7 linked regions of the Homo sapiens genome follow. The protein of the gene in region 3 purifies or fractionates together with the protein of the main gene of each other region. This does not show direct contact. Each region holds a gene or a part of one and is shown on either strand. Other genes may lie near its edges. The genes, in order: AGA, ITM2C, GSR, MDH1, GBP2, GOT1 and ASS1.

Evidence for each region.
Region 1: the proteins of GSR (region 3) and AGA fractionate together in Homo sapiens (co-fractionation; one large-scale study listed by BioGRID). This does not show direct contact.
Region 2: the proteins of GSR (region 3) and ITM2C purify together in Homo sapiens (co-immunoprecipitation; one large-scale study listed by IntAct). This does not show direct contact.
Region 4: the proteins of GSR (region 3) and MDH1 fractionate together in Homo sapiens (co-fractionation; one large-scale study listed by BioGRID). This does not show direct contact.
Region 5: the proteins of GSR (region 3) and GBP2 fractionate together in Homo sapiens (co-fractionation; one large-scale study listed by BioGRID). This does not show direct contact.
Region 6: the proteins of GSR (region 3) and GOT1 fractionate together in Homo sapiens (co-fractionation; one large-scale study listed by BioGRID). This does not show direct contact.
Region 7: the proteins of GSR (region 3) and ASS1 fractionate together in Homo sapiens (co-fractionation; one large-scale study listed by BioGRID). This does not show direct contact.

Annotation. Positions count from the first base shown.
Region 1 is NC_000004.12:177,439,320-177,444,097, reverse strand, and holds the start of AGA (N(4)-(beta-N-acetylglucosaminyl)-L-asparaginase isoform 1 preproprotein), read left to right. Parts: upstream 1-1,660; 5' UTR 1,661-1,722; coding exon 1,723-1,849; intron 1,850-3,671; coding exon 3,672-3,825; intron 3,826-4,409; coding exon 4,410-4,522; intron 4,523-4,778. UniProt on the Homo sapiens protein: Cleaves the GlcNAc-Asn bond which joins oligosaccharides to the peptide of asparagine-linked glycoproteins.
Region 2 is NC_000002.12:230,874,282-230,877,358, reverse strand, and holds part of ITM2C (integral membrane protein 2C), read right to left. Parts: intron 1,740-3,077; coding exon 1,551-1,739; intron 503-1,550; coding exon 392-502; intron 1-391. UniProt on the Homo sapiens protein: Negative regulator of amyloid-beta peptide production. May inhibit the processing of APP by blocking its access to alpha- and beta-secretase.
Region 3 is NC_000008.11:30,721,169-30,725,342, forward strand, and holds part of GSR (glutathione reductase, mitochondrial isoform 1 precursor), read right to left. Parts: intron 1-4,174. UniProt on the Homo sapiens protein: Catalyzes the reduction of glutathione disulfide (GSSG) to reduced glutathione (GSH). Constitutes the major mechanism to maintain a high GSH:GSSG ratio in the cytosol.
Region 4 is NC_000002.12:63,602,278-63,606,451, forward strand, and holds part of MDH1 (malate dehydrogenase, cytoplasmic), read left to right. Parts: intron 1-2,418; coding exon 2,419-2,595; intron 2,596-3,002; coding exon 3,003-3,116; intron 3,117-3,661; coding exon 3,662-3,751; intron 3,752-4,174. UniProt on the Homo sapiens protein: Catalyzes the reduction of aromatic alpha-keto acids in the presence of NADH. Plays essential roles in the malate-aspartate shuttle and the tricarboxylic acid cycle, important in mitochondrial NADH supply for oxidative phosphorylation.
Region 5 is NC_000001.11:89,115,771-89,119,944, forward strand, and holds part of GBP2 (guanylate-binding protein 2), read right to left. Parts: exon of another isoform or gene 3,141-4,174; intron 2,273-3,140; exon of another isoform or gene 2,008-2,272; intron 2,004-2,007; coding exon 1,807-2,003; intron 1,465-1,806; coding exon 1,222-1,464; intron 1-1,221.
Region 6 is NC_000010.11:99,423,758-99,427,931, forward strand, and holds part of GOT1 (aspartate aminotransferase, cytoplasmic), read right to left. Parts: intron 1-4,174. UniProt on the Homo sapiens protein: Biosynthesis of L-glutamate from L-aspartate or L-cysteine. Important regulator of levels of glutamate, the major excitatory neurotransmitter of the vertebrate central nervous system. Acts as a scavenger of glutamate in brain neuroprotection.
Region 7 is NC_000009.12:130,443,289-130,448,146, reverse strand, and holds the start of ASS1 (argininosuccinate synthase), read right to left. Parts: upstream 3,187-4,858; 5' UTR 3,152-3,186; intron 1-3,151. UniProt on the Homo sapiens protein: One of the enzymes of the urea cycle, the metabolic pathway transforming neurotoxic amonia produced by protein catabolism into inocuous urea in the liver of ureotelic animals.

The sequences.
Region 1 (4,778 bases), on a different chromosome or scaffold from region 3:
CAGATCAGGCTCTTTCCACCAGAAGAAACACAAATACCTTAAAAAACAGGAAGAGGCTAGAGAGATCAGTGGGGTACTAAGACCAATTTTCCATGTATTGTATTTTACAATTTTTGCTAAAGGCATGTCCTAATTCCTTAAGGCTGCATAAAAATACTCAGCCCAGGAGCTAAGGAAAATTTACTCAGAGGACAATGTATGTTTTTCTGGCTTTCTTACCCTGTTTCACCCAAGTTTCCAGTTTCACCTGCCATTGGGTTATGATTACTCCAGCACAGATGACTTGTTCCTCTTCCAAACCCCATGAAAGGAACTTAGAAAATTTGTCTTTATTATATCTTTTAATTAACACTTCCCCAACGGGATAATGATACTTCTGGGCTATCTTATGTTCTTTAAATTATGTATTTAATTTCCTAGCAATCAATAAGAGCCTTGAAGGTTTTGTAAGTCTCACAACTCCTACCTAGTTTATATTTTTACATTTATTTATTTATTTATTTTTGAGACAGAATCTCACTCTGTTGTCCAGGCTGGAGTGAAGTGGTGCGATCTCGGCTCACCACAATCTCCACCTCCCGGCTTCAAGCAATTCTGCCTCAGCCTCCCAAGTAGTTGGGACTACAGGCATGCACCACCACGCCCGGCTAATTTTTGTATTTTTAGTAGAGACGGGTTTCACTATGTTGGCCAGGCTGGTCTCGAACTCCTGACCTCGTGATCCACCCACCTCAGCATCCCAAAGTGTTGGGATTACAGGCGTGAGCCATCGTGCCCAGCCTAGTTCATATTTTTAAAGTTTGTATAGATTTATAGATGCTTTTAAAAATTATGTGATTATGTGTCTTGCCTTGGCAACCTGGGCAGGCATTCCAGACACCCAAAGGGATTATTAGTTCATGTTCGCACGTCTGCCCAGCAACAAAACTGAGCAGCCTCCACCAAGCACGTAAAATCCCCATTCCTCCTCTTATTCATTTATTTAGCACTTAATAGTGCCAGGCAGGAAGGTAAAAATACATTTAAAAAGGAATGGAGGTAGCCGTCTTGCCCTGGAGGTGCAGGAAGCTGCACTTCAGTGTGCTAGGTAGAGGGTACATAGGCCGTTTCTGTTTTTCTTCCAGCTCAGGGATTTATAATGAGAGGAAGTGCTACAAAAAGCTGTGGTGCGAAAATGACGGACGCTATGAATGGAAAAAAAATCTAAAATCAATCCGGTCCTAAGCAAACACGCTTCACCTACACTCATAACTATTGCAGACCTCCGAGGCCTGGGATCCCCAAGAATATACTGAGTTTGACAAACTTTTCAACTTCAACTTTAAATTAAAAAGACAGTAAAAGAACCAAATCCATAGTACACAGCAATCGGCTAAAGTTCCTGGGGCCCTGCAACCCAGAGTTGAATAATTTTGTATTAAATTCCCAATATCAAGCTAAATCTATTTTAACCACAGGAAAAGCAGCAACTTGTCTGGCTATTTTAAAAATCTGAACAGCACTTAGGAAGAAGCACCTTAGCGCAGGGAACAGCTCAGTGCCCCGTGACACAACTCTCCCGCGGGCCCAGGGACGCCTCGTCTCGCGAGAGTTGAGGGACGCCTGAGCGAACCCCCGAGAGAGCGGGCGTGGGCGCCAGGCGGGCGGGGCACTGGGGATTAATTGTTCGGCGATCGCTGGCTGCCGGGACTTTTCTCGCGCTGGTCTCTTCGGTGGTCAGGGATGGCGCGGAAGTCGAACTTGCCTGTGCTTCTCGTGCCGTTTCTGCTCTGCCAGGCCCTAGTGCGCTGCTCCAGCCCTCTGCCCCTGGTCGTCAACACTTGGCCCTTTAAGAATGCAACCGAAGCAGGTGCGGGTTGGCGGCCTGGGCGGGCGGCTGCGCCGCGAGAGCTTGCGGGTGGGGATGACTAGCCCGCCCCGCTGCAGTCACCCGGCAGGGCGGACGGAAGAGCGCCGGGCTGGGCCGGGCCTCGCGGTCCCGCCCTCTAGGTCTTCCCGAGTCTCCAGCGCCGCTCAGTCTCTTGCAAGTGGCCTTTACTGCATCCTCCCCACCTACCGCTGTTGCATTTTAGGTCCTCCCTTCATGCAGCCCCCAGCGCAATGTATTTTCCACCCTGCTGCTGACCATAGTTATGGCCTTTGTGCTTTAATCAAGTAGCAGCTACGCTTTTCTGCCTGACAGTCTTTTCACGGGCTGTGTACGTCTCCACCTCTCGTTTCTAATCCTTCACTTCTTTGCAATTTTGTAGACGACTAATAGTGTCCCAGCCATAGCCTACTCTTTTCCCATTTACTTTTTTTGCCACGTGTTGTCATACTTTACCTGCCACTTAGAATTCAAGGTTCCAACCTTTGCTGTACATTCACACTATCTGGGGAGCTTCTCAAAAATCATCCTGCCGGGGCCCACCTCCTGTGACTGTGATCTAACTGCTGGAATCAGGGCCACTGTTTTTCTTTAAAAAGCTCCCTAGGTGATTTCGATTTGCAGACAGGGTTGAGAACCACTAAGCTAAGGTATCACCTCTTCCAGGAAGCGTTCCCTGACTTAACTGCCCTCGTGTCCAGAATGAGTTAGGTTCCTGCCTTCTACACCTTGTTAATAGCCTTTACGTACCATTATCTTGGCATTTTCGCATTGTACTATGCTTGTTTCTTTCATTTGCTTAATGACCAGAAGAGTCATTTTCAGACCCCTCCTCCTCCATCTGAGGTTGCTAACGTATTAACTTTCTAGGGCAGAATTGGCTCCAGAATTTGGTGGCAGTGCATACGATTCAGAGAAAATGAAGAAGCAGGCTGTGAGAAAGATATTCCCAGCCATAATGAGACGAAAAGAAATTGCATCAGCCTGGGCGGGGGACAGTTCTGTGTTTAAGTTGCCTGTATTGAAAGAGGGAACTTGCGTAAATACACTTTCAAGCCTGTAGGTGCTGTAGTGTTTACCAACCAGAGCACCCACTCTTCAAGGAATTCTGTTGTTACCAGAAAAGAAATTGTCCATCAAAGACCCTTCCCCCCACACCCCCAAATGTATGGGATCCTGGCTCTGCTACTTACCAGCTGTGTGACCTTAAACTAACTGCCTGACCTGTGGCTCTGTTTACTTTTCTTTAAAATGAGGGTCGTGATTGTACAGTACCTACCACAGAAGCTGTTATGAAGACTCAATGAACTAATCCATATGAAGTCCACGTTGTAATTGTTTGCTGTTCAGTATTATTAAGACTTCCTGGGATAGGTGTTACCTCAATACACATATCAATTATGCATATTTTAATCTAATGATGCAGAAGAAATGTGTGAAGAAGGCTGCGGTTTAGTGGATTTTTTATTTAACTGCCTTTTAGTGGTTTCGATTGTACCTTTTAAAATAAAGGAGGGGATACTGATTTCGTTTCTCGCACACAGAAGAGATAGATATTAGTAAGTGAAAAAAAAAAAAACCTTCAGCTTGCACCAATAGCCAGTTTTTTGAGTTCTTCTGATAACTAGTTAAATAATTTTGACTCTTCACTGACTCCTTTGTAACACTTGATAAACTAATGTGTTAAAAAATCAGCTTAACTCAGTAAATGTGAAAAAGTTGTTAAATTGGAGTTGGTTTGTTGCATTTGGCATTGAAAAAAAAATATATATATAAACAAGCATTATTGGGATTTGATTAACAGCGTGGAGGGCATTAGCATCTGGAGGCTCTGCCCTGGATGCAGTGGAGAGCGGCTGTGCCATGTGTGAGAGAGAGCAGTGTGACGGCTCTGTAGGCTTTGGAGGAAGTCCTGATGAACTTGGAGAAACCACACTAGATGCCATGATCATGGATGGGTAAGAACACCGTTCAGGTCCTATTTATTATGTTGAGTTACATTTAGAGTTGTGGTCTTCTGAGAGCAAGATGAAAGAATGCATGAGTTTTGACACAGATCAAAACCCCTAGCTTATTATACTTGACCTTTCTAAACACAGTTTCCCTCTCAACTGAAAAAAAAAAATCAGAGTAATAGAAATATCACATGGAGAGATAGGTAGTCCCTTAGAACTGGGAGAATGCCAAGCTAAAAAACTATGTCTCTGACCTTATAAACAATCATTTATCTGCTGTCCACAAATGCTGTGGTTTGCCTGACCTGAAGCCTTCAGGCCCCTTTCAAAAGCCATATTTAAAATTAGCTTGGAGAAACTGAGAATTTTAGTGCTGTTGTGGTACATGGCAAGTTGATTTTCTATTTTTTTTCCTTAATTTTGTCTGATTGTGGGAATCTATATGAACTTCGTGGATGTGCTGTCACTTCTGTGTTAAGATGGTGGAGTTTAACCGCAAAACACTATTGATTGGAGAAAAGCAATGTTTTTAATCTATGAACCTCTGAAAACTCCTTAATTCCTAACTGCATTCTATTTTCTTGCAGCACTACTATGGATGTAGGAGCAGTAGGAGATCTCAGACGAATTAAAAATGCTATTGGTGTGGCACGGAAAGTACTGGAACATACAACACACACACTTTTAGTAGGAGAGTCAGGTATTTTTTTAACTACACTGAAATTTTTTCTAGTCTTTTGACTATAGTTTTCACTGAAAAATAGTACAAAATCATGGATAAAACCAGATCTAAGTTCAAATTCCAGCTGTTTTACTTAACATCTATTGAACTGGATAAGTAACTTTTAAATCTCTTTACTTCTTCATCTCTAAGAAGAAGGCAATGGAAGTTTTGAGACGGAGTTTCGCTCTTGTCACCCAGGCTGGAGTGCAATGGCGCGATCTCAGCTCCCGAC
Region 2 (3,077 bases), on a different chromosome or scaffold from region 3:
GCTTTCGTCCAACCCCTCGCCCGAAATGCCAGCCCACCTCCCTCCTCCAGAGGCCCCTGGGCTGGCCCTTCTGATGTCCTCAGGCACTTCCTGCCTGTGCCCGGTGCCTGCACCTGTGCTGCCAGGAGCAATGGCATGCGCACGAGTCCGTACCCAGGGTACAACCTTGAACACTAAGGAAGCCGGTCTCGGGGCATTGACTCTGGAGATGTGGAAGCAGGGGGATAGCAGAGGCGAGACCAATCTGGGTACAGGGCCCAGGTGCCAGCAATGTCTCTTGCTCCCCCAACCCCTGACACAGGAACTTCCTGTACCTCAGACCTAGCCTCCATGAGACAGGGGGCAAGGGAGGGACAGGATGCTGCAGACATCCCCCCAACCCCCTGCGCACCTTCACGTTCATGAGGAGCTCCCAGAAGTTGCGAGGGGGCAGCACAATGGTGGTGTTGAGTTCGATGACATAGCACTTGTCCAGGGAGATATCATGGTACGCAGTCAGACCCTGGCAGGAGAAGGGGTTGGGTCAGTCTCTGCAGGAGGTGACAGCTGACCCAGGCAGGGCTGCAAGAAGCTTTGGCCAGCCAGGCGCGGTGGCTCATGCCTGTAATCCCAGCACTTTGGGAGGCTGAGGCGGGCGGATCAAAGGTCAGGAGATCGAGACCATCCTGACTAACATGGTGAAACCCCGTCTCTACTAAAAATACAAAAAATTTGCCAGGCGTGGTGGTGGGCACCTGTAGTCCCAGCTACTCGGGGGGCTGAGGCGGGAGAATGGTGTGAACCCAGGAGGCGGAGCTTGCAGTGAGCCGAGATCGTGCCACTGCACTCCAGCCTGGGCGACAGAGCGAGACTCTGTCTCCAAAAAAAAAAGCAGCTTGGCCAGCAGGGGCAGGAGTCCCACCATGCCTTCCTGGGACCCTGGGCCTTCAGGAGCAGAGTCCTCTCCAGACTCCTCAATACCTGGGCGGGCACTCCCTTTTCCTGGTCTTCTCTTAGCCTGTTGTAGAAGGTGCCACATGATAGAGGAAAATAGCAGCTGATTGCTAAACGCCTCTGTTGTTATAAAGCTTCTTCTCATGTTTACAGAGCTGAGGTTTGGGGAACATGGTAACATCCCAGCTGTGCATTTATGAAACCTGTGAGGGCCAGCCATTCCTGGGACAGCCTGGACCCCAGCGAGAGATGCCCTGTCTCAGGACCCATGGGGGTTACATGAATACGCATGAGACCCACTCTGCAGAGACCCGCTGAGCTGTACACGCAATGCACTCGATGGTGAATGTACTACCCCTCGATACAACGCACTGGCCCTGCCATGACAGCCAGCGTGCAGCTGGCAGGAGGCTGAGGAGAAAATCAGCCTCGGCTGCTTCATACTCAGCAAGAACCATTGTTGCTAACAGGAGAAAAGCAGTGTCTTGAAGACCCTGGTAAGCCTAACCGTAGACACCTGCTGTACTCCGAGGAGTCTCCTTTCATCCCTGCTCCCCTTGCCCTGAGTCCCCGGGACACCCTCCCACCCCCCACCCCCAGGCCCTGGCCAGCCTCACCCGCTGGAAGTCATGGATGATGTCTGCAGGGTCACCGCCGCCAAACTGGGGCACAGGCACGTTGATGCGCTCGTAGTTCTCGTCGAGGTAGATTTTCACATCCTCTTCCAGCTCCATCTGAGTCCGGACCTGGGAGGACAGGGAGTCCTCATACAGCACACCACAGCGGAAGAAGTTATCTCGGGCCAGCTGAGCAAGGCGGAGAGACAGACAGACAGTCAGAGAGGCTGGTCATACACGCACTCCGTAAGGCCCCCTCTTGCCTACCCGTCCGCTACATGCCCCAAAAGCCTGCGGAAGCAAGAAGAGCAGGGACTGTGAGACCCATTTCGCAGATGGAGAAACTGAGACGGTGGGGCATCAGGTCAGGGTCTGGGGCTGCCAGTGAGGAGATGAGCTGATTCTTGGGCAAGGCGCTTCCCAGCTTCACAAACGGAAGGGAGGATGAGCTGGGTCTGCCAGGTTCTAGGTGGCAGACCTCTCTGGGCCTCAGTTTCCCCATCAGTAAAGCATGATGATCCCTAAGGTCCCTTCTGGCCTCCAAGTCCTTGAGTCGGTGACTGGGAAAAGGGGTGGCCCAGCAGGACTAGGACCTGGCCACCTCCGTGCCCTCCACAGAGGTGCAGACACCAGAGAAAGAGCCTGGGGTTGGCAGGGGGTCAAGGACGAACCTAAGAGTTGGGCACCTACGCCTGTGCACGACTGCCTTTCCTGTCACCTGCTGTCCTGGCCTGCAGACCTGGAGGGGCCTAACACGGCGGGTGGGGAGGTGGAGCTGGAGGCAACACTGTTAAGAGTCTTGTGCCCCTATCACGGTTACCTCCACATCCAGCCTCGGACAAGTGCCATCGCCCTTCCTGGATATCCCTGACCCCTGTCTTGGAGAAACCTTGACAGACACTGTGTCTGGTGGGCCAGTCCAGTCACTCCATCAGTAAGGGAGGCCAGGCAGCCTGGTGTGATCCCATCAACTGAATGGCCGGGCGGGCCAGTCTGCCCACTCTTACTTCTGGAGGGGGCTCCTGGAGGGGCCTGTAGATACATGCTTGGGACTGCCTGGCCTGGGATCGGCAGGATTCCACCGTCTGTTTGATTCAGTGCAAGTTCTCCAGGGAGGATGCGTCATCGCAGCATGGGGGGCTCCTGTGGGCTGTGCGGGGATGAGAGCCCAGGGAAGGTGAGGCTCCGGGGCTGCATCCCACAGTGGCTGGACACCCCGAATACTGTCCCAGGGCACAGACCCAGGGGCTGCTGGGAGGTGTCCACACAACGAATTGGGGTGTGGGGAGAAGGGTGTGAGTCGAGGGTGGAACAGAGGGGACCAGGAAATGCTGGCCCAGGTCCTAGGGTAGGGCCACAACAGGAAGAGGCCTGTGGGAAGGTCCCACACAGGACCCTGGAACGAGGGGGACGCAGGCCATGGAGGGAGTGGGGCGGGGCAGGGGGATGCTGCACAGAAAGGAAGGTGATGGGTGTATGTGAGCTGAGCTTTCAAGGGGAAAGCCCCGTGAATGCAAACTCTTCAGC
Region 3 (4,174 bases):
GACAACTCTTCTGGATGTCAGTCCCCACTATTACCTGATACCCACCATCTCCCGTCCCCCAAAAAGAAAAGGACCTAGGACCTCCACATCCTATTAGGCTGGTGCAAAAGTAACTGCAGTAATATTTAATGTTGCAACACCTAGTGAATAGAAGGTAATGAATTCTCACTGACTGGAAGCCACTTACAAATGCCAAAGTGGTCCGGGCATGGTGGTTCAGGCCTGTAATCCCAGCACTTTGGGAGGCCAAGGTGGGCGGATCACTTGAAGTCAGGAGTTTGAGACCAGCTTGGCCAACATGGCAAAACTCAGTCTCTACTAAAAATATAAAAAAATTAGCCAGGTGTGGTGGCGGGCACCTGTAATCCCAGCTACTCAGGAGGCTGAGGTAGGAGAATCACTTGAACTTGGGAGGTGGAGGTTGCCGTGAGCCAAGATCGTGCCACTGCACTCCAGCCAGGGTGACAGAGTGAGACTTCGTGTCAAGAAGAAAAAAAAAAAGCCAAAGGGTATCAGTATTTCCATATCATTCCTTTAGTTTCCCTCTATAAAAAAAGTTCTTGGATTCTTGGACAGACACGGTGGCTCATTTCTATAATCCCAGCACTTTGGAAGGCCGAGGTGGGTGGATCGGTTGAGGTCAGGAGTTCGAGACCAGCCTGGCCAACGTGGTGAAACCTCGTCTCTACAAAAAAAAAATTAGCTGGGTGTAGTGGCACACGCCTGTAGTCCCAGCTACTCAGGAGGCTGGGCAGGAGAATCGCTTGAACCCGGGAGGCAGAGGTTACAGTGAGCCAAGATGGTACCACTACATTCCAGCCTGGGTGACAGCCAGACTCTGTCTCAAAAAAAAAAAAAAGCATTCTCTGTGGTTACTTTTCAAAGTATGTTTTACAAAGAAATAGACACCCTGAAGGATTCAGAGGCAGTCTATCTTTTCCTAGCCCTGCAGATTTAGTGGGTTTTGAGGCAGATGGCAAAGCAACAGTATATGAAGACTAGTACAAAAAAAGGAAGCAGTCAACAAGGTAAGTTAAAAGCCAAATTTCAACAATAGCATTTGCTTGCTTTAACTAGCCCCACCCTTTATGGCCACTCCTTTATTTGTCACTTATGAATATGGGTGGGCCCCATTCTATGAAATTCTAAACCCAGGAGACACATTAGGGTAACCTTCTATTTCGGAGGGCTATCTGTCAATATTGCAGGAACTGATGACAGAGTTCCTTTAAACTGACCTCCTTTTAGTAAATTGCATTTAATAATGCATGTTCAGGCTGGGCACGGTGGCTCATGCCTGTAATCCCAGCACTTTGAGAGGCTAAGGTGGGAGGACTGCTTGAGCTCAGGAGTTCGAGACCAGCCTGGGCAACAAAGCAAGACCTTGTCTCTACTAAAAATTTAAAAAATCAGCCAGGGCATGGTGGTGGCCATGTGCCTGTGGTCCTGACTACTGGGGAGGCTGAGGTGGGAGGGTCACTTGAGCTTGGGAGTTCAAGGTTGCAGTGAGCTATGATCATGCCCCTGCACTCCAGCCTGGGTGACACAATGAGACCCTGTCTCAAAAAAAAAAAAAAAAAAAAAAAGCATGTCCAGTGTTCAGCTTTACCAGGGTATAGACATCATAATATCAAAGTACACAGTATCACTTCCAAATGAGGTTATGATTTACATGTTGCTGGGTAATTGTTTTCAGCCTAGATGAACAATGATTCACTGAGCAGCCTGCTGTTCACTGATCTTTCAAAGCCCCTACCTCTCTCTCCCCTAGGCCTCTCCAACTGCTGCTGTGCAGCATAGTTCACTGTGACTTGGCAATCATGAACTTTTGTCACATGATCAACCCTTACTACCCAACTCTCATTGGTAAGTACTACTCGCCAAAACCACAGGAACCTGGTTATTCTTATCACAGAATCAGTACACTCAGCAGGAACCCAGGACCGCAAGTTCCCCAGGCCCTGGGGCAAAGGGAGCAGCAATTTAGAAACAACTTTTCCTTAAGCTGACTCTCCCATCACGTGTGTAGGCAGAGAAGCGAACCACAGAGGCAAAGCTCCCAGAAGGCTCTAATTCACCTTGACTTTGGGCGATCTTTGCATTTCTCTCCAGTCTACACGAGATCATGAGATAAGCAATATACTTAACCTTTTGGAGACTTGAAATGCTGAATTCAAGCAAGGCTCAGTGGTATCTACCTGCAGAACCAGCTAGTCGGGAGGTTGAGGTGGGAGGATCGCTTGAGCCCAGGAGTTTGAGGCTACAGTGAGCTGAGATCACACCACTGCCCTCCAGCCTGGGAAACAGAGGGAGACCCTGTCTCTTAAAAATGAAACAACATGCCAGACGCGGTGGCTCATACTTGTAATCCCAGCACTTTGGGAGGCTGAGGCGGGTGGATCACTTTAGGTCAGGAGTTCGGGATCAGCCTGGCCAACATGGTGAAACCTCATCTCTACTAAAAATACAAAAAATTTGCCAGGCGTGGTGGCCTGCGCCTGTAGTCCCAGCTACTTACGAGGCTGAGGCACATGAATTCCTTGAACCCAGGAGACGGAGGTTGCAGTGAGCCGAGATCACCCCACTGCACTCCAGCCTGGGTGACAGAGCAACAAACACACACACACACACACACACACACACACACACACCCAGGTCTGCTGGGACCTAGTACAGGAGACTGGTCCAAAACAATGGCCTCCCATAAACTTTAACGGTTGAACAATTAAATGAAGGAACACTGATAAAACAATGAAAAACCAACCAATCTCACTACCTGTAAATGACCACTGCTAGACACACATTCTAATTTGAACCTTCCGTGTGAGTTCATTCACCACAACTTTAAAACTTCCCCAAGCGTTAGAAATTAATGGATTTTATTTAGGAAAGAACTCATGGGAGAACCAATCTTAAACTTCTGCCGTGCACAGTGGCTCACGCCTGTAATCCTAACACTTTCGGAGACCAAAGCAGGAGGATTGCTTGAGTCCAGGAGTTCAATACCAGCCTAGGCAATGTAGTGAGACCCTATCTCTATAAACTGAAAGGAAAAGAAAAAGAAAAAGACAGAAAGACAAACTTCTATTGGGCATCGCCAAGGGTGAGATCTCAATCCTATGGCTTACCACAAAACTACTTTCACTGAGTCACTGGTTTGCTCAAACCCACCCCTGCCCCCATAGTTCACTGTGTGTCCAGAAACTCCACATTTTTCAAACCACAACCTACCCATCAGCTTCTCATCTCTTATTTCTATTAAAGAGACACTCTGTGCTCCAAATTTGATTACACAACATATCCCGTTTTGATGCCTAGGCCTGGGACCCATCTTTTGAGGTTCCGAATGTCAAAGAATACTACCCAACCCCCCACCTTTTTTTTTTTTTTTTTTTTTTGAGACAGAGTCTCACTCTGTTGCCCACACTGGAGTGCAGAGGCATGATCTTGGCTCACTGCAACCTCTGCCTCCTGGGCTCAAGTGATTCTCATGCCTCAGCCTCCCAAGTAGCATGTGCCACCACACCCGGCTAATTTTTGTATTTTTAGTAGAGACGGAGTTTCACCGTGTTGGCCAGGCTGGTCTCGAACTCCTGACCTCAGGTGATCTGCCCACCTTGGCCTCCCAAAGTGCTGGCGTGAGCCATCACGCCCAGCCTAGATGGTTACATTCTTGTGAGGTTCTTATGAGCCTCAGTAAATCTACATTTTACATAAGATAAAGTAAAAGTGAAAAGCAGGAGTAGAGGAGATAAGGCTATGACATGGGATTGTGAAATTACAGCTGTCTGTTTGGGAACAAAAGGAAAAGCAGTATTTGTGTGATTCAGTTCCCAAGCTGAACTTTCCTTCTGGCATACTTTGGGGTTCCAATATTTTTTTCTTTCACAACCACAAAATTCCTTAAGGGAAGGGACATGTCTCACAAATGTTTATATCTATCGTTTTCTCCCTACCCACCCCCAATCCCAGCACTTAAAATACAAAAAATGGGACAGGAGTGGTGGCTGATGCCTGTAATCCCAGCATTTTGGGAGGCCAAGGCAGGCCGACTGCTTAAGCACAGGCATAAGAGACCAGTTTGGGCAACATGGCAAAACCCTGTTTCTAAAAAACAATAAATAAAATAAAAACAGGCCAGGCGTGGTGGCTCACGCCTGTAATCCCAGCACTT
Region 4 (4,174 bases), on a different chromosome or scaffold from region 3:
GAGTCATTGCAGACATTTTAGGTAATGGCCTTTTTTTTCATCTTTATCCTTTTCGGTTGGTTGGTTGGGGTTTTTTTTTTTTTTTTTTTTTGCTTTTTATTTTGAAATAATTTTAGACTCAAAAGTCGCAAAAAAATAGTACAGAGAAGGCCCATGTACCCATCACCCATTGATGGTACCTTACATAACTACAGAGTATTATCAAAACCAGGAAGTTGATGAACTACACAATACTATTAACTAGACTTACTGAAGTTTCACCAGTTTTATATTCACTTATTTTTTTCTGTGTCTTTATGAATGATTCTATGACATTTAATTACAAGTGTAGATTCCTGTAACTGCCCCCATAGTCAAGGTACAGAATTTCTTCATCACTCACAAAAGAACTCCTTCATACTCTCCCTTATGGTCACACCACCCTCTGTCCCTGACATCATTTTTCTGCACTCCACCTCTATAATTTTGTCATTTTGAGAATTTACAAAAGTGGAATCATGCAGTAAGGAACCTTTTGAGACTGGCTCTTTTTCACTCAGTTTAATGCCTTTAAGATCCATCCAGGTTGTTGTTTGTTTCTTTTTGTTGTTTTTCCACTTACCCCTTTTATTTATTCCATTGCCTATGTAAGACATAATACAGTTTATTTAACCGTTCTTTTTTTTTTTTTTTTTTTTTTTTTTTTTTTTTTTTTTTTTTTGAGACAGAGTCTCGCCCTGTCGCCTAGGCTGGAGTGCAATGGCACGATCTCGGCTCACTGCAACCTCCGCCTCCCAGGTTCAAGAGATTCTCCTGCCTCAGCCTCCTGAGTAGCTGGGATTACAGGCACACGCTGCCACACCCAGCTAATTTTTGTATTTTTAGTAGAGACGGGGCTTCACCGTGTTGGCCATGATGGTCTCCATCTCGACCTCCTGATCCTCCCACCTCGGCCTCCCAAAGTGCTGGGATTATAGGTGTGAGCCACCGCGCCTGGCATATTTAACCATTCTTGAACGACATTTGAGTTGTTTCAGTTTGGAGCTGTTATTACCCTTATTTTAAAATTTTCCTTAAAATATCAAAGTGTATTCCTTTTCTTACATGGTAAATACTCAAATGCTTTATTTATGTGTGCTAAAGCTACAGACTCTGGCACAACTAGTTTCTTCTCCCATTCTTTTTGGGACACAGAGGAAGGAAGAATTGCCCACAATGTCACCAAAACAGATCAGCTTCTTAAAATATTTTTCCACATTCCCTTCTGGTTCATCATAAATTCTGTTGTCTAGTTAGGAACAAATTATACATATACCTGATCATAATTTATTTTCTGCACATAAACTTATCAGACAAATAACAAGCAGGCTGATTTTATTTAAATCTACCAAGACATTTCTTTTTTTTTTTTTTTTTTTTTTGAGACAGTCTCGCTGCATCGCCCATGCTGGAGTGCAGTGGTGCGATCTTGGCTCACCGCAACCTCCGCCTCCCAGGTTCAAGCGATTCTCCTGCCTCAGCCTCCCAAGTAGCTGGGATTACAGACATGTGCCACCAAGCCCGGCTAACTTTGTATTTTTAGTAGAGACAGGGTTTCTCCATGTTGGTCAGGCTGGTCTCGAACTGTCAACCTCAGGTGATCTGCCCGCCTTGGCCTCCCAAAGTGCTGGGATTACAGGCGTAAGCCACCATGCCCAGCCCAAGACATAACTTTCTAACCTTTTTTGTGGCTACTGTACTACATGTGATTGCAAGGCATTGCAGGACCCTAAAGTGCTTTCTGGAGTTATAGCTAGAGATTGTTACATATGTTATAATTTTAGAGTGTATATATGTGTGTACACACACACACATACACATATATAAAACCTCTTTCCTTCAGTTTCCTGATATATAAAATGAGGACAGTCATATCTTGGTAATTTGAGTCCTATCCAACTCTAAAATTTCATATTTAGGGTTATTTGAAAATTAATTTCTATATGGTATATAATAAAAATTTTACCTAAATATAAAGTGCCTAAATACCTGATTACTCAGAAGCACTGAGAAGACATCTCCAAGTAAACATTAACAGTGAAACAAAAGATCACATTTACATATTCAAGAAATAGTAAATTGATAAATAATAGTAACGATTAATGTTTTATGTTTGATACACCTACTGTACTAATAAGTTAACCACAAACTATGGGATGCTTCATACCCTTAAACATTCTACTCCATAAGGTTTCAAGTCCACAGTTGTTACCACTGTTAAGCTGTTGTAGGAAATTGCCAAGCAATAAATTTACATTTTTTACAAGTCAATATAACTCTTGTGTTCTCTTGAAATTTCAGAAGCTTTTTATCTTTATTTAAGGGCATTTGTCAAAACAGGTCCCAATTGGAAATAAAAACCATTTGTCTCAGTAATGTATTTGTTTTCAATTTAACTAGATTGCTCTTAAACTTGGTGTGACTGCTAATGATGTAAAGAATGTCATTATCTGGGGAAACCATTCCTCGACTCAGTATCCAGATGTCAACCATGCCAAGGTGAAATTGCAAGGAAAGGAAGTTGGTGTTTATGAAGCTCTGAAAGATGACAGCTGGCTCAAGGGAGAATTTGTCACGGTAAGAAAAATCTGTGAGCCTTCTTAACACTGAGCGTAAAGAACTCTTGAGAGACTCTTAGGACAGAAAACCTTAAAGAGGGCAGGTCTTTCACAGTTGCTCTGATGACTGCATACTTTCGGGATCATAGTAAGCCAGTCATGATCTAGTGTGATCTGATGTGACAGCAGTTGAGATTTATACCAAGATCCATGTCTTTGTCTGACCTATGATAAACTTTGTATGGAGATACATAGTTTCCTTTTTCCAGAAGGATTGGTAAGGCTGACATTGGGTTGTTGCATGATTTTGGAGGGGAAACATTAAGCTCTGGTCATAGCTTTTCACCCCAAGGTCGACTTGGAATTAATGAAAACTTTGCTATCATGACCAAGTAATACTGCTGCCTTCACCTGCCCCCTTCCCAGACTGTGCAGCAGCGTGGCGCTGCTGTCATCAAGGCTCGAAAACTATCCAGTGCCATGTCTGCTGCAAAAGCCATCTGTGACCACGTCAGGGACATCTGGTTTGGAACCCCAGAGGTAAGGATTTAGTGATTTGCACAGGTCACTCTATTTTATTTTTGTTGCCTGATGATATAATATAAAAAGAATATAGCCTTAGCAGTCAGTCAGGTTAGGTTCATTTCTCAGCTCAGCTGCCTATTAACAAGTAAACTTCGGGGTTTGTTAGCCTTGACCTTTCTGAGCTGTTTTGTCATCTTTTACATGACATTACTATTATACACAGGGTTGTGAGGGTTAAAGGAGATTGCACATGGAAAACACCTGGCACAATGCCTGATACATAGTAGGGGTGAATTTTTTTCTTCTATGCCACAGCTTCCTCATCTGTAAAATGAGGATTAGGTTTCCCTGGCCTACTTCACATATGATATGGAAGCGTGGAATGAAATAATATCCATGAAAGTTACCTTGTCACCAGTACCTGGTGCTGATGATAGTTCCTTACACAGTAATGATGTTATGAACATAGTAAGAAAGGGTCACCTGGTTTAATTTTATTAGTTCATGTGTCAGTTGTGTAAACTAATCATCATGAGTATGTGAAACATTGTTATTTTCAGGGAGAGTTTGTGTCCATGGGTGTTATCTCTGATGGCAACTCCTATGGTGTTCCTGATGATCTGCTCTACTCATTCCCTGTTGTAATCAAGGTAAGGTATTTTGGAGCTATTTCCCTTCTTTGAGGAAGTAGTTATATGTTTCTCTTAAGAATGGTATTATTGGCCAGGCACAGTGGCTCACGCCTATAATCCCAACACTTTGGAAGGGCAAGGTGGCAAGATTGCTTGAGCCCAGGAGTTCAAGACCAGCCGGGGCAACATAGTGAGACCCCCTCTCTGCAAAAATAAAATAATTAGCCGGGCATGGTGGCACACATCTGTGGTCCTAGGTTCTTGAGAGGCTGAGGTAGGAGGATCACTTGAGCTTAGGAGATCAAGGCTGCAGTGAACCATGACAGTACCCCTCCACCAGGCAACAGAACGGGACCCTGTCCCCCAAAAAAGAAAACAGAATGTTATCACTTAATCTAGAAAATTGTTCCTTTACTAAAATAGACATTTTTCTCAGCTTTA
Region 5 (4,174 bases), on a different chromosome or scaffold from region 3:
TTAATTTTTTCATAATGATGAGGTCTTGCTACTTTTCCCAGGCTGGTCTTAAACTTAAACTCCTGGGCTCAAGGAATTCTCCCACCTTGGCCTCCCAAAATGCTGGGATTACAGGCATTAGCCTCCTGTGTTCTATTTTCTTGAAGTTGCAAAGTTCTATCCTGCCCTATGCATTTCCACATTACATTATTTGCTATAAAGCTATTCCTCTATATGCTTTGGTTAGCTCTTAACCATTTATTTAATATATATATATATTGGAGACAGGGTCTCACTCTGTCTCCCAGGCTGGAGTGCGGTGGTGCAGTCTCCGCTCACTGCAACCTCTGCCTCCCAGGCTCAAGTGATCCTTCAGACTCAGCCAGCTGAGTAGCTGGGATTACAGGTGTTAGCCACCATGCCTGATTAATTTTTGTGTTTTTAGTAGAGGAAGGGTTTCCCCATGTTGCCCAGGCTGGTCTCAAACTCCTGAGCTCAAAGTGATTCACCCACCTCAGCCCCCCAAAGTTCTGGGATTATAGGCATTAGCCACCGTGCCCAGCCAACTCAATCATTTTTAAGTTCTCATCTTACAGGTGACTTTCACAGACAAGCATTCTCTCACACTCTAAATTATATCTCCCTGCCTCTCCCTTTACTCTTTCATAGCAGCCTATTATTTTTATGCATTGTGTTAACCACTATTTATCATTATACTTTTTTTTTTTTTTACTTTTTACAGAAGTATCTTTTGCTCCTATTATGCTGGAATGAGGATAAAAGTCACATTTCTTTTATCCATCATTATACTCAGTGGTTGGTACATTACATTATAGGCATTCCCTAAATATTTTAGAATTGCTGAACAAGAGAATTGTACTGCAGTTAGTTAGTGGCAAAGTCTCACTTACATATAGTATTTGCTTTTTTCTTTGTTGCTCAGTATATATATCCTGGATGTTTATTTGATAAAGAGGGAGCTGAGAAGTTGGTGGAGAAGTTTACCATAATAGAATTCAATTCTAGTTCTTTTCTTTTTTTATTCTCCTTGCAAGGAATATGAGATGATACTATAGCTTTAGTTTTCATGTAAAATTTATAATATGATTTTCATGTTGTATTTTCCTTGCCATCAATAGACTATGCATTTGTCAGAAGTGACCCTTATGCTTTCCATTTTATCCTCTACAATGGGCAGAAGGAGAAAGTCCAGGTAGGAAGTGGGTAGAGAGAGTGACTCACGAGGCCCATTGACTGGAATGCCACCTGAAAGAGTCTTGACATTGGAATGGCTGAGGATGTAGGAACAAAATTCTGCAACTTGTTCTATGAAATCAGGGTTCAGCTCTTCCTCCTTTAGCTGCTCTAGGTGAGCAAGGTACTTCTTAGGAGCGGGCCAATCGAAGACGAAGCACTTCCTCTTGGGGAAGAACTTTCGGATGCACAACCGAGGATCATTAAAGCTTTTACTTTTCTTATCAGTACCTACAGGAATGAAAATTAGAAGTAGTAAAACTTCAAATTAATTACTTCAAATATGATCTTTCAATTTTATAATTTTCACAAAGCCCATGTAAGGAGGAAATTTATTAGGAAGAAGAAATAAAAAATTAAAGGGGTAGAGAAAGGAAAGTCTCCAAGAAGAGGTAGGTAATGCAATTTAAAATTGGTTCCAACTGATATAGTCAAGCAATGTTTCCATTTCCTCTAGCAGAACAGTCAGAAAAATACAGTTAAAAATTATAATTTTTAGCACTGCACAGAAATGGTTATTTTGATATTATTTGCTCTCTATTTATTACCCAACCAAGCATCAGACCCAGTAACCTTTTCTTAGCTTTAGCGAAAGCTCCAAGTAGTCATCAGCAGTGATGGGTTCTCCATCTACTTCCAGTTCCAGGGTGAAATCTCTGAGAGTCCACACAAATGCTGGAAAAAAGCTCACAAAGTCAGCTGAGTCGTCTACAGAATTGTTACCAGGTGAGGAGTTTGCCTTGATTCGATCTGTCAGCTCTGTCACATAGCTGAGATGCTAAATTAAGAAAACTACAGAAAATGCCACTCTTTATACTACATTTTATCCTAATGCTTACCTAAAATAATTTGGTTTCTTTTTATTAGCTCATTCATTCATTCACAAACATTTATTTACAGAATTCATTCACTCACAAACATTTATTGAGCACCTACTATGAACCAAGCACTGCCCTAGGGACTAAGAACGCTGTAATGAATGAGACAATGCTACCACTATAGAGCTTACATTCTAATGATGGAGACAAACAATGAACAGGTAAACAAAAATAAATTATCAGGTATTGATAACAATTGTCTTGAAGGAAAACGAACTGGGCAACTAGCTCCTAATGTATTTTTAGAAACTAGCAACCAATAGACATTCATCTAATACTCTGGTGTCTCCCAAATCTACCAATAAGGAAAGCAGAGAATAATTGTGTGTATCTGCATGTGGTGCTGGTTCATGTAGTTTTCCAGGTAAATTATCTCTGACATTGTAGTTGAGCAGTGATCTGAATGAATTGAAGAAACCAGTCATGTACAAATCCAATGGAGGAACATTGCAGACAGAGATCACAGACCCTTCAAGGCCCTTAGATAGGAAATTACTGAGTGTGTACAACATATATCAAGAAATCCAGTGTGGTAGGGCAGAAGCCTTAAAATAAATAGAGGTTGGGATATGCAAGCTCTGTAAACCAAAGTAAGAAGTTTGAAATTTAATAGAAAGTTAATGGGAAGTCATTGGTGGGTATTAAGTGAAGAGAGGATATAGTATCGTTTTTTGTTTTTTAAATCATACTGGCTGGCATTGCATCTGTGAGTCAAGTGTGTATGCCAAAACAAACAAACAAACAAAACTAATACAAAAAGCAATTAGGTAGTTGAAAAGATAACCAAGATGAGAGGCAATGGAGCAAGTAGTGAGAATTGGCTAGTCTAGAGAAATAACTTTGATAGTGGAGCTGAAGGAGTTTGATGATTAATAATTTCCAAAACATAAGGAATGGAATCATCCAAGATGATTCCTAAGTTTTTGATCTGAGCACTTCTATGAATGATGTGGGAATTTATTGTGATTAGAAAGACTGGGAAGGAGTTGTTTTGGACAGGAAAATTAAGTTTTGTTCTGTACACTTTAGGCTCAAGATGTCTCTTACACATCTGAATGGAGATGTTGCACCAGAAGCTGGATACAAAAGTTTGAATTTGCTCATGCTTGGGAATACAGATTTGATGGTGATAAACATATTGGTGCTACTGAAAGCCTTGAAGCTGGATGTGATCATCTGGGGACTGAAAGCAGAAAAAGAAAAGAGGCACAAGAACTTAAGTGTTATAATATTTAGAGGCTAAAAGGAGAAAGAGGATAGAGTAATCTGAAAAAGTCTACCAATAAGGAAGGTGGAAAATTAGGAAATGTGGTATTCTAATAGGAACCAATTCCAAGTGAAACAGGCATTTCAGAAAGGTGGAAGGGATCAAATTTATGTAATGCTCCTAGAGAAATAAAAGGCTTATGGAAGATTGGAAGATCAAATGAGGTGAGAACTGTGCATTACATATAGGAATATGGGGGTGATCTTGATGAAATCTAATTCAGTATAATGCTTGAAACTAAGCTAATGGAAATGGTGAGGTCATTGATAATGAACTAGGTTAAGTAATGTGTGAGAGTGGAGAATGACAATAAGGGTGGAGAGTTCCAATAAGGTGATGGAACTGAGACACCAGGGTGTTAAATAATTGTCTATTGGTTGCTAGTCTCTAAAAAGACACTAGGAACTAAAATCTTTAATGAATGAAGGATGTATTTATTGGAACGTTGCTAGATAATTGCAACAAAAATAGTGGTGTAGTCTGAGGGCATATATATTAAAGAAGATTCTCTTTTTAATGGTAAAGGAATGAGAAAGTGTCCAGAACTCTAATATGGAGCAAGGAGGATACCTAACTCATCTCTTACACTTATGATATGCAAGGTATGGGATTAAAAATAGTCATCACATAAGACCACTGGAGAGGTCTGTAGGAGAAATAGTATCTATAGTGTATAGCTAGGTATCATTTAGAAGGCAACACTTAGAGCAGATGATAAGAATATAGAGAGTTGCAGAAGTGAGAACATGAGTTCTAGAGGACATTGAAGGTTTGGACAGGCATAGGAGATTAAGTC
Region 6 (4,174 bases), on a different chromosome or scaffold from region 3:
CTTGCCTCAGCTTCCCATGTAGCTGAGACCAAAGTCATTCACCACCAGGACCAGCTAATTTTTTTTTTTTAAATTTTTCATAGAAACAGGGCCTCACTTTGTTGCCCAGGCTGGTCTCAAACTCCTGGGCTCAAGCAAACCTCCCGCCTCGGACTTCCAAAGTGCTGGGATTACAGGAGTGAGCCACCATGCCTGGCCCAACTCACAATACTCTCATACCATTCATGATATACCCCTTAGTCCACCAAACTTCTCAACAAGTTCAAAAAGCCTCCTTCGCCAGCTGGGATTTGGTCTGGCTTCTCTAAAGATGTACCAAAATAGCTACTTCCAAGTAAGAGTTGTCCCTAAAGCACATCAACATATCTATGATCACAACGTTACCATTGTTCAAAATATTCTTGAAACTTCTTTTGGAATTGTTTCTAGAGGCAACATCTCATTATTTTGAATAGCCTCAATAGTGCCAAATCTTTGTCCTTTGAAAGTCAATTATTTTTCGGGAATAGCATTTGCATCATCTCCATTGAAAAGAGTGAGTGAATAAGCTGGGTAAAACTTACGGAGAACAATTATTTTAAAAAATGATCCCTTGTGTGGGTCCTACATGCCTTGATAGCTAGTCTAAAAGGGGTTTCTAGAAATCTTGGAACAAGAAAAGCATATTTGAACTACCTACAAAGGATACTAGGTAGATGCAAAAAAATTTGGGATGTTTATAGAAAAACCAGTTCTGTTATGTTTCAGTTCTGTGTCTGGGTGTTATATCTATTCTATAACATTATTAGGCTATGTGTTTATATTTATGATAATATGTCATTCACAAATAATGTGCTATGAATAAATAAAATATGAAAGAGAAAGAAAAGACTGGAATACTGCTGTTCTTACCACTACTGAATACTCTGTGAAACTCTAAAATTCCAATACTACTACTTGGGTTGGGGATGGTTGGAGAGGCATTGTGTCTATACTGTGACTAAAAAAAAACTGGCCAATTTACAACTCCCCTTCCTTCTCCATTGCCCAGTTTTTCCCAGGTTGAGTTCTAGATTTGTTCCTGATGCCTCTCCTAACTGCCCTAGTGAAGCAGAACCAGATTCCTCTTGGGTGACTGGAGCAGTGGGGTCAGGCATTAACAACAACCACTATTCCTGCTGTCCCCAAGAATTTTTATTCCTATTTGTTGGACCCTTGAGTTTCTCATTCACTCTTTCATTCACTCGCTCACATAACAAGTACTTACTAAGTCTCACCATGAGCCAGGCACTGGCTAGTAGAAGCTATAGAGATTGATAAAATAAGATCCCATCTGCCCTCCAAGAAACACAGAGCATAGATAGAGCCTTTAATTCTAATTTGAGGAATCAGAGAAGATTTTACAGAGAATGAAGAATGAAAGATGAATAAGAGTTTAAAAGGTAAACAAGGGAAGAAGGGCATGCGAGAGGGCACACCTGTGCAAGGCCCCAGAGGCCTGGGGAGCATGAGGTCTTTGAGGATCTGCATTTTCATGACTCTGATGTGGAATCCACTAAGGATTAGCTGGGAGTGGCTAAAAGAATCCTGGAGTCTCTTTTAGGGAACTTCAGTTTCAATGGGTAACCACTGAAAGCATTTAAGCAAGAGAGTAACATGAGCAGCTGCACATTTTAATGGGATCATTTGAGTGACACCACAGAAAATAAACCAGAGAGAAGGACAGAGACAGTAGTTAAGAAGGGTGAGTTACTAGAAGTAGAAGGAGTAGAAAGCTACTGCAATATTCCAGAAGCGAAATAATGAGGCCTTGAATTCACACAATGGCAGCAGGGATGAAGAAAAGGGGTGCCATTGGAAATAGATTCGAGGTAGAAAAGACAGAACCTATTGACCAAATAAAAAGACAGGGGATTGGGGAAAGGGCTGCTGTTGACTCCAAGGTCTCCCTCAAGTCTGGATAATGAGTGGATGGTGGTAGTGGGGTCGACCAAGACCTAGAACACAAGGGGAAGATAGAAGAAAAGATCAAGGGGAAGGTGGAAATGATGAGCTGTGCTTTGAACATGCTGAATTTGAGGGAGTTGTAGGATGTGTCCACTGTAGGCCTGACATTCAGAGATGAGGTCTGGGGCATGGAGAAAGACATTGACGGAACCTGAGGGCAGAGAAATAACAACACGGATTTACTAAATACTTTGTACATACAAGGTACTGCACTAAATACATTTCTTTACTCTCATTTAATTTGGATAGCAACCCACAAAATAGATATTGTGATGTCTATTTTAAGGATCTGGCTGCTGCAGCCAGAAAAGTCAAACCATTTGCCCAGGATCACAGAGATAACAAGAGCTAGGCTGTCATACTATTAAGTTCATGGATCCATGTGCTTTTTTAAAAGCAAGAGATGTCTAGAGAAAGCCTGAAGCAAGCAGGCCCCTGGGACCATGTCAGGGGCCTTTTTATCAGCATGCTCCCCAGCTCCATGCCCCACTGCTCTTCTTCCTGGACATAAACCCTTTTAGGGGAGTCACACAGTCTACAGGTGGGCCCAGCAGTCTTGCTTTGCAGAAGGAAAGGAAGAAAGAACACAGATTTAAATGGTCAAACCATCACCCTCATCTTCCTCCTAAGATCGCCACTTCCCTCACCTATCCCCACTCAAGAGCCTATTAGGATACTGGGGAGAAGGCTAGGGGTACTCAGAAACATCTGATAAAGCATATTTTCCCAACTATTTTATTTGAAGATGCTAGGAAACCATGTTGAAAATAAGAAATATTAAAGCTAGCAGAGTTTATCTGGGCCAAAAGAAAGCTAGGCTCACATGAAAAAATGGACTGGAGTCTTTGAAGAAACTTCTTGCTACAGGTTGCACCAGGTTGGATCCATTTCCCATGTCCTTAAAACCACTTCAGTCTGAAGCTTTGAGAAGCACTAAAATGATCAACTTAGAAAGCATTGTGCTTAGCAGTGGAAAATGTGATACTCTCCTCTGTTTACCTATAAGGAAATTATTTAAATCATCACAGCAAGAAGAAAAACTGAGGAAACTAGCTGCAAGTAGGAACTGTCTGAGATTACAGGTGCAGTTTATTCTAAACGTGTCCAAAATCACTGGAACATTAACTAGATAACCTCCATTAGGTTTTATATTAACTTGGGGGAAAAAAAGTATCTTCCCTAAGGTCAATGATTAATTACATTTTCTTCACAAGGGGTATACTTGGGGATGTGTATAAATAAGACTAGGACATATAACGGCTGGAAGGAGACCTTTTATTCTACTCTAATTAGATCCTTATCCAAACACCTGCTATCCACAAAAAGACGGGTCACAGTGATGATCAAAAATAACACTTATATATGACACTTTTCATTTATATATCACATTTCACATATAATTATTCATTTAATCCTCAGACAACTGATGAGGCCAGTAAAATTATTATCCTACGCTACAGTCATAGAATGTGCTAGTGAATTGTGGAGTTGACTTTTAGTACAGTAGAATCTTTTTTATTTATTTATTTATTTATTTATTTTTGAGACGGAGTCTCACTCTGTTGCCCAGGCTGGAGTGCAGTGGCGCGATCTCAGCTCACTGCAAGCTCCGCCTCCTGGGTTCACGCCATTCTCCTGCCTCAGCCTCCCGTGTAGCTGGGACTGCAGGCGCCCGCCACCACGCCCTGCTAATTTTTTTGTATTTTTAGTAGAGACGGGGTTTCACCGTGTTAGCCAGGATGGTCTCAATCTCCTGACCTCGTGATCCGCCCGCCTCGGCCTCCCAAAGCGTTGGGATTACAGGCGTGAGCCACCATGCCTGGCCCAGTAGAATCTTAAGAGTAGAATTTGGGAGAGAGGTCATTCAATCTTGGCTCCTCATTTAACAGATGAGCCCCAGGGATGTTAAACAACCCTTCCAAGTCACATGGCTGGACCACGGTGCTGGGCCTGTACCTAGGTCTCCTGGCTCTTCCCACTACAGTGTACTGGCTACCACCTGGAGGTACCTGAAATACAGGTGTGGGCAGAGACTCTGAGGCCTGAGAGACCTGGCCTGGATTCCCAGCTCTACCACCCAGTGGTCAAATGACCTGGGGCAAATTGCTTCACCTCTCCAGTCTTCGGCTTCCTTGCCTCTAAACAGTAATAGTAATAAACCACCCTCCAGAGTTGTGAGCATTCAGTG
Region 7 (4,858 bases), on a different chromosome or scaffold from region 3:
AGCCCGAGGCAAAAACTAAATGAAACTGAGGGTTTGATGTCGGGGGAGGAAGTGACAGGGAGAGAAGGAACCACAGCTGCAATCCAGTGAGCGCTCACTCCAGGCACAGGACAGAGGTCAAGTCCACCAGACATGGGTTTGAGTGGCTTCAGCTCTCTAGCATAACTGCTCAGCTGCAAAATAGGGGTGCAAACAGCCTGCTCCCCACAGGGCGACTGTAAGGATTGGGTGAGATGCTGGGGGAAGGAGCCCAGAGCTGGGCACCAAGCATGTATGTGCCCACTAAGCTCTGTGCACCGCTGCTATGGCTGACCTCAGCCAAGTTCCTGGCTTGCTAAGCCTCAATTTCCTCATCTGTACAACCTGACAGCCCTCTGGGTTCTGACCCTCCCAGACATTGGGCTTTCTTCCTGGGAGCTGCGCCTGGCAGGCAGATCCTGGCTGAATTCAGCCTCCCCTAGTCCCAGCTCCACCCCCACCACATCCCCCAGAAAGGGCCACGGCAGGTTTCTCCAGCTCCCTGGCAAATGCCCACTGCCCTCCAGCCCTCCTTCCCCGGAAGAGACACCTGGGAGGAGGGAAGGTGGCCTCGCGTCAAGGTACCAGAGCCACCTGGCTTTCATTGGGATGGCATTCTCTGTGGCCCCAGCCACAGCCATCTGTCCAGCTTCCAGCAAACAGGCCAGCCTGGGCGCTCACTTGACACTAAGGAAAACTCGTGCTACTTGAAAACGTCAGAGCTGGAATGACAACAAGAGCGGCTACTATGTTCACAGTCACAGGTGCATCCTCTCAAGGTGGAGACTGCCATTACCACCTATTTACAAAGGAGGAGGCAGAGGCTAAGCGGCCAGCCGAGGTCACAAGCTAGCGGCTTCAAACCCAGCCTGACTGCAGGCCACTTGCTCTTCCCTGCACTAGGCCTTCCACTCCCTGGCTCCTAGGAGACCTCAGATCTCCCCTTCACTCTACACACCTTCCAGAAAACCAGCCCCCCAGTGAGTCATGGCCAACCTGCCCACTATTTCTCTGGAGAGCCTGTGTGCTATAGCTCAGGCCTACTGCCCCGTGGAAGATTCCCCTGCAACCCCTCGCTGACATTCTAACTCAGCTGAGCTCGGTTTGTCTTTGGTGATGGACGAAGGGCACATTCATTCATTCGTTCCACTCATATCAAAGTGCCTATGGGTGCCTGGTCGACCCCAAGTCTGGGGAGGGAGCCACGCCCTGGAAGATCAACTTTGCCCAAAGCTACATCAGAAATCAGAGCCTTAGACTCTGAATTCCAGCGAAGTTACCTCTTTCCACATGGGTGCCTGGTGCCCACAGGCAAGCCACTGACTTCAGGGACTGTGTAGTCAGTGCTCAGATGAGGCATCTGGTTGACCTGGCTGGCCTCCCAGCAGGCCAAAGATGAGATGGGCCCGGGTTGGGAGGGGGAAGCGCTTGTGCAGCAGGCTGTTTTGGGCCTGGCTCCACCCCAAGGCTCCTGCGGCCCTGGGCCTGCTTCCCAAGCACTCAGGAATGGAGACTGTGCTGAGAGTGGGGCCTCCCCTTCCCTCTCACGACGTGTCTGCCCCCGCACCGGCCAGGCGCTCAGCAGGCAGGAGTCACTATTCATTCACTTGATCCACCCCCACAGAGCAGAACCAGAATTACTTCTCAGCATGGTGCACAGATGGCCCCGCCAGGACAGGGTCCCGCCCCCACCCCCAAACTTCCCCGCCCTAGGCCTTGGGCCTAAGGGGTCTGGGAGGGAGAGGGAGTTTGGAATGGAGACTCCTCCAGTTCCTGCTCCTAGCCAAGCTTCCCAGTCCGTGTGGCTGCTTCTCCCTCCCTCTCATCAGAACCTAACCCCAGGCACAGTTATTGTGCAATTGGACCCAGGCCCAGCACCCAACAGTCTACAGAGCCCTTAGCAGCCGCACAGTATCTGCAAATGTTTCCTGAGCCCTCAGCCCCAGCCAGCTCTAACAGACTGAAGCTTGGGGGCCAGGCACTTTGGGTGGCTCGAGCCTGTAATCCTAGCAGTTTAGGAGGCCCGAGGGAGGAGGGTCGCTTGAGCCCAGGAGCTCGAGGCCAGCCTGGGCAACATGACGAGTCCACATCTCTGATAAATTTTTAGAAAGAAAAGAAAATGAAAAGGAAGCTTGGGAATCTGGAGGCTGAGCCAAGGCCTCACCAGCTCTCCCCATCACTGGGTTTGTGCTTGCTGGGAGCGGGAGGATCAAAGCCCAAGTCCCCTAGGTCTTGATCTACCCCTGGGGAGAGAACAGGTCTGTTCCTGCCCTGAGACCTGCAGCCTGACTCGGCTGCTCGGGAGTGGACTCTCCACTTCTCAGAGAAGAATACTGAGGCCAGGCCAGCCCTCCTCAGGAACAGCCCTGGCCGCCTGGGAGAGGAGTTTCCTCTCTTTCACAATGACCCTGCCTCCCTGGAGGGCGCAGCCGCCCAGGGGCCAAAGGCAACAGCAGCCCGAATAGAAAATATTCCTGGCACTGCCCCTCCCACAGAGCCCAGCCCAGGCCAGCAGGAAACCCCGCCGCGAGGCCGCCAGCCCCACCGGGGAGGGCCAGGTGGCTGCCGCCCCCTGCAGGGAAGGGAGCCAGGGCCACCATGCCCATCTGTCCAGGGTAAACTGAGGCTGCGGGGAAAGCGATACGTCCAAGCCCCAGAGGGGCTGGACTCCTGGTTTTACGCAGAGAAATAGAGGTGGAGACAGACGGCGAGTCCGAGAGAGGGAGAGAGAATCGGGAGCCCCCCCACACGCTCCGGACTCCCCAGGTCTCCATGTGGGGGCTTCACGACACAGAGGAAGCCGGATCCGACAAGGAGTCCAGAAAGGACCCGGCTGCGCAGGGAACAAATAACCCGAGCCGCTCTTCGGACCCGGGGACTCGCGCCCCCGGGGACTCGCGCCCCCGCCGCGTCCCCCACGCTCCAGAAACCTGGAATCCGGTGCCAGGCGTTTGAGCATCGGGAGCCCCTTCCCTCCTGCCTCGGTCCCAGTCCCCGGCGAGTGGCGATCGGGGTCCGCCCTCTGCCTCCGCGGGCCCCGGGGCGGGCGTCTTCTACGCCTCCTCCTCTGGGCCCGGGAAGCGGGTGCTCTCGGCTAGGGAGTGGGCAGCGAGAGGGGCCGAGGGCTCCTTACCGGGCTCGGGCAGCGGTGGCAGGCGGCAGAGCAGGACTGGCAGGGGTGCCCATCCCAGGTTATAAGCACAGGGCCCGGGGGCAGGGCCGGTGACCGGGGACACGTGGCGGGGACGCGCGCCACAGACCCCGCCCCCGGGCCCGGCCCCCGCCTGGAGCCGCTCAGCGTTCACAGCCACCTGCAGATGGGCGGGGCCCGCCTCCCCAGGCCTCGTCCCCACCTCCCCCCGCCTCCCACCAGGTCCGGGCCTGGGCCCGGCGCCGGCTCACCCTCCCAGGGGCGCGCCGGCGGGGGCGCAGGCGGCTCGCGGTTCCTGGCCCTGGCCCGCGGGCTGGAGGCGCCAAGGAGGGCGGCAGTGGCTGCGACCCATGTAACTCAGGGGCGGAGGGTGGCCGCAGCCGTCCTTCGAGAGACTTGCCTCCTGGCCCTGGGGAAGCAATTTAAACGCTTCGCGGTGGGAGCCGGGATAAAAGTTCCACTGGCGCAGGGAGCTTCGTGCTCACTTCTATCCGGTGCCGGCAGCCTGGGCCTTCTGCAGCCCCCAGAGCCCCCTCCCTCCCCAACCATAGCCTCTGGTAGCCGAGTAAGGATGAGAAAACCGAGGTGAGCCGGCGCGGGAAGGCCCGGCTTTCATCCCTTAGGCCAGGGCTGATTGCTGGCCTGTCTTCTCAGAGCCTGGCACCTGCCCAGACTCCAGAGGGCACCCAGTAAGCAGTGAGTAAAAGACTGTCTGGCTGCGAACCCACTAGACAGGAGGGAAGGTTGAGGTTCAGAGAGAAGTCTCTTGCTTGTAAAAAGCAGCTGGGAGTTGTGACCCCAGGCCCGCCTTCAACAGCTTCTCTACCTCAGGAGTTTCCCAGCTTGGTCTGCCGGCTCCAAAGCCCTGATCACTGCAACCACAGCCCCAGTAAAAGAGCAAGTCCTGGGACCCCATCCAAGGCAGTTGCTCCATAGTGAGCACTGACCCCAGAAGGGAGGACTCCCGGTCCTCAGCCGGCTCTGAACCTGGGGGAGGTGGGAGCCCCAAGCCTTGCCCAGCCGCTACCCTGGAGTCAGTGCTCCTTTTAATCACCATCCACTCTCAGCCCCTCTGCCAGTCAGCCCCCACCACCCCCTCAAGCCCATGGCAAGCAACAGTAGCTGTGAGTCCTTCTAGAAGGAAAAAAGGATCAAACCAATTCACAAACAAAGCCACAGCTCGATTCTCTCTTAAGCCCCTTAGTTCTCTGACACTTAAACCTGGGATGTGGCCCTTGATGGCAAAGGGGCCCCTGGTGAGCCACGTGGGGCTGGGTGTACATGGGTGGCTTGAGGCCCCTTCTAGATGGGAGGCGGTATCACAGCTGGCCCCCCTCAGCCCTCTCACAGGAGCAGCTGGGGGTCTCGTGGAGTCTCTGGGCCTCCCACACTAGCAGGAGGCAAGTGAGGAACACCTACACAATGACACCCTTGCAGCAGTTGTGTGTCCTTGGGGCGGTCACTCCCCACTGCAGCCTGTTTTCTCATTGGTAGGGTCGCCCTGGAAAGAGCAAGCATTCTGTTTTCACCTTCACGACTACCCTGTATGAAGTACCTGTGATTGTTATCTCAATGGTATGGGCAGAAACCTGCTGCACAGAATGACGGTGTATCTTTCCCAAGGCCACACAGCATGTGAGTGGCAGAGCGGAGCTAGAATCCAGTGTCTGAAGCTCTGGCTCAAACCCT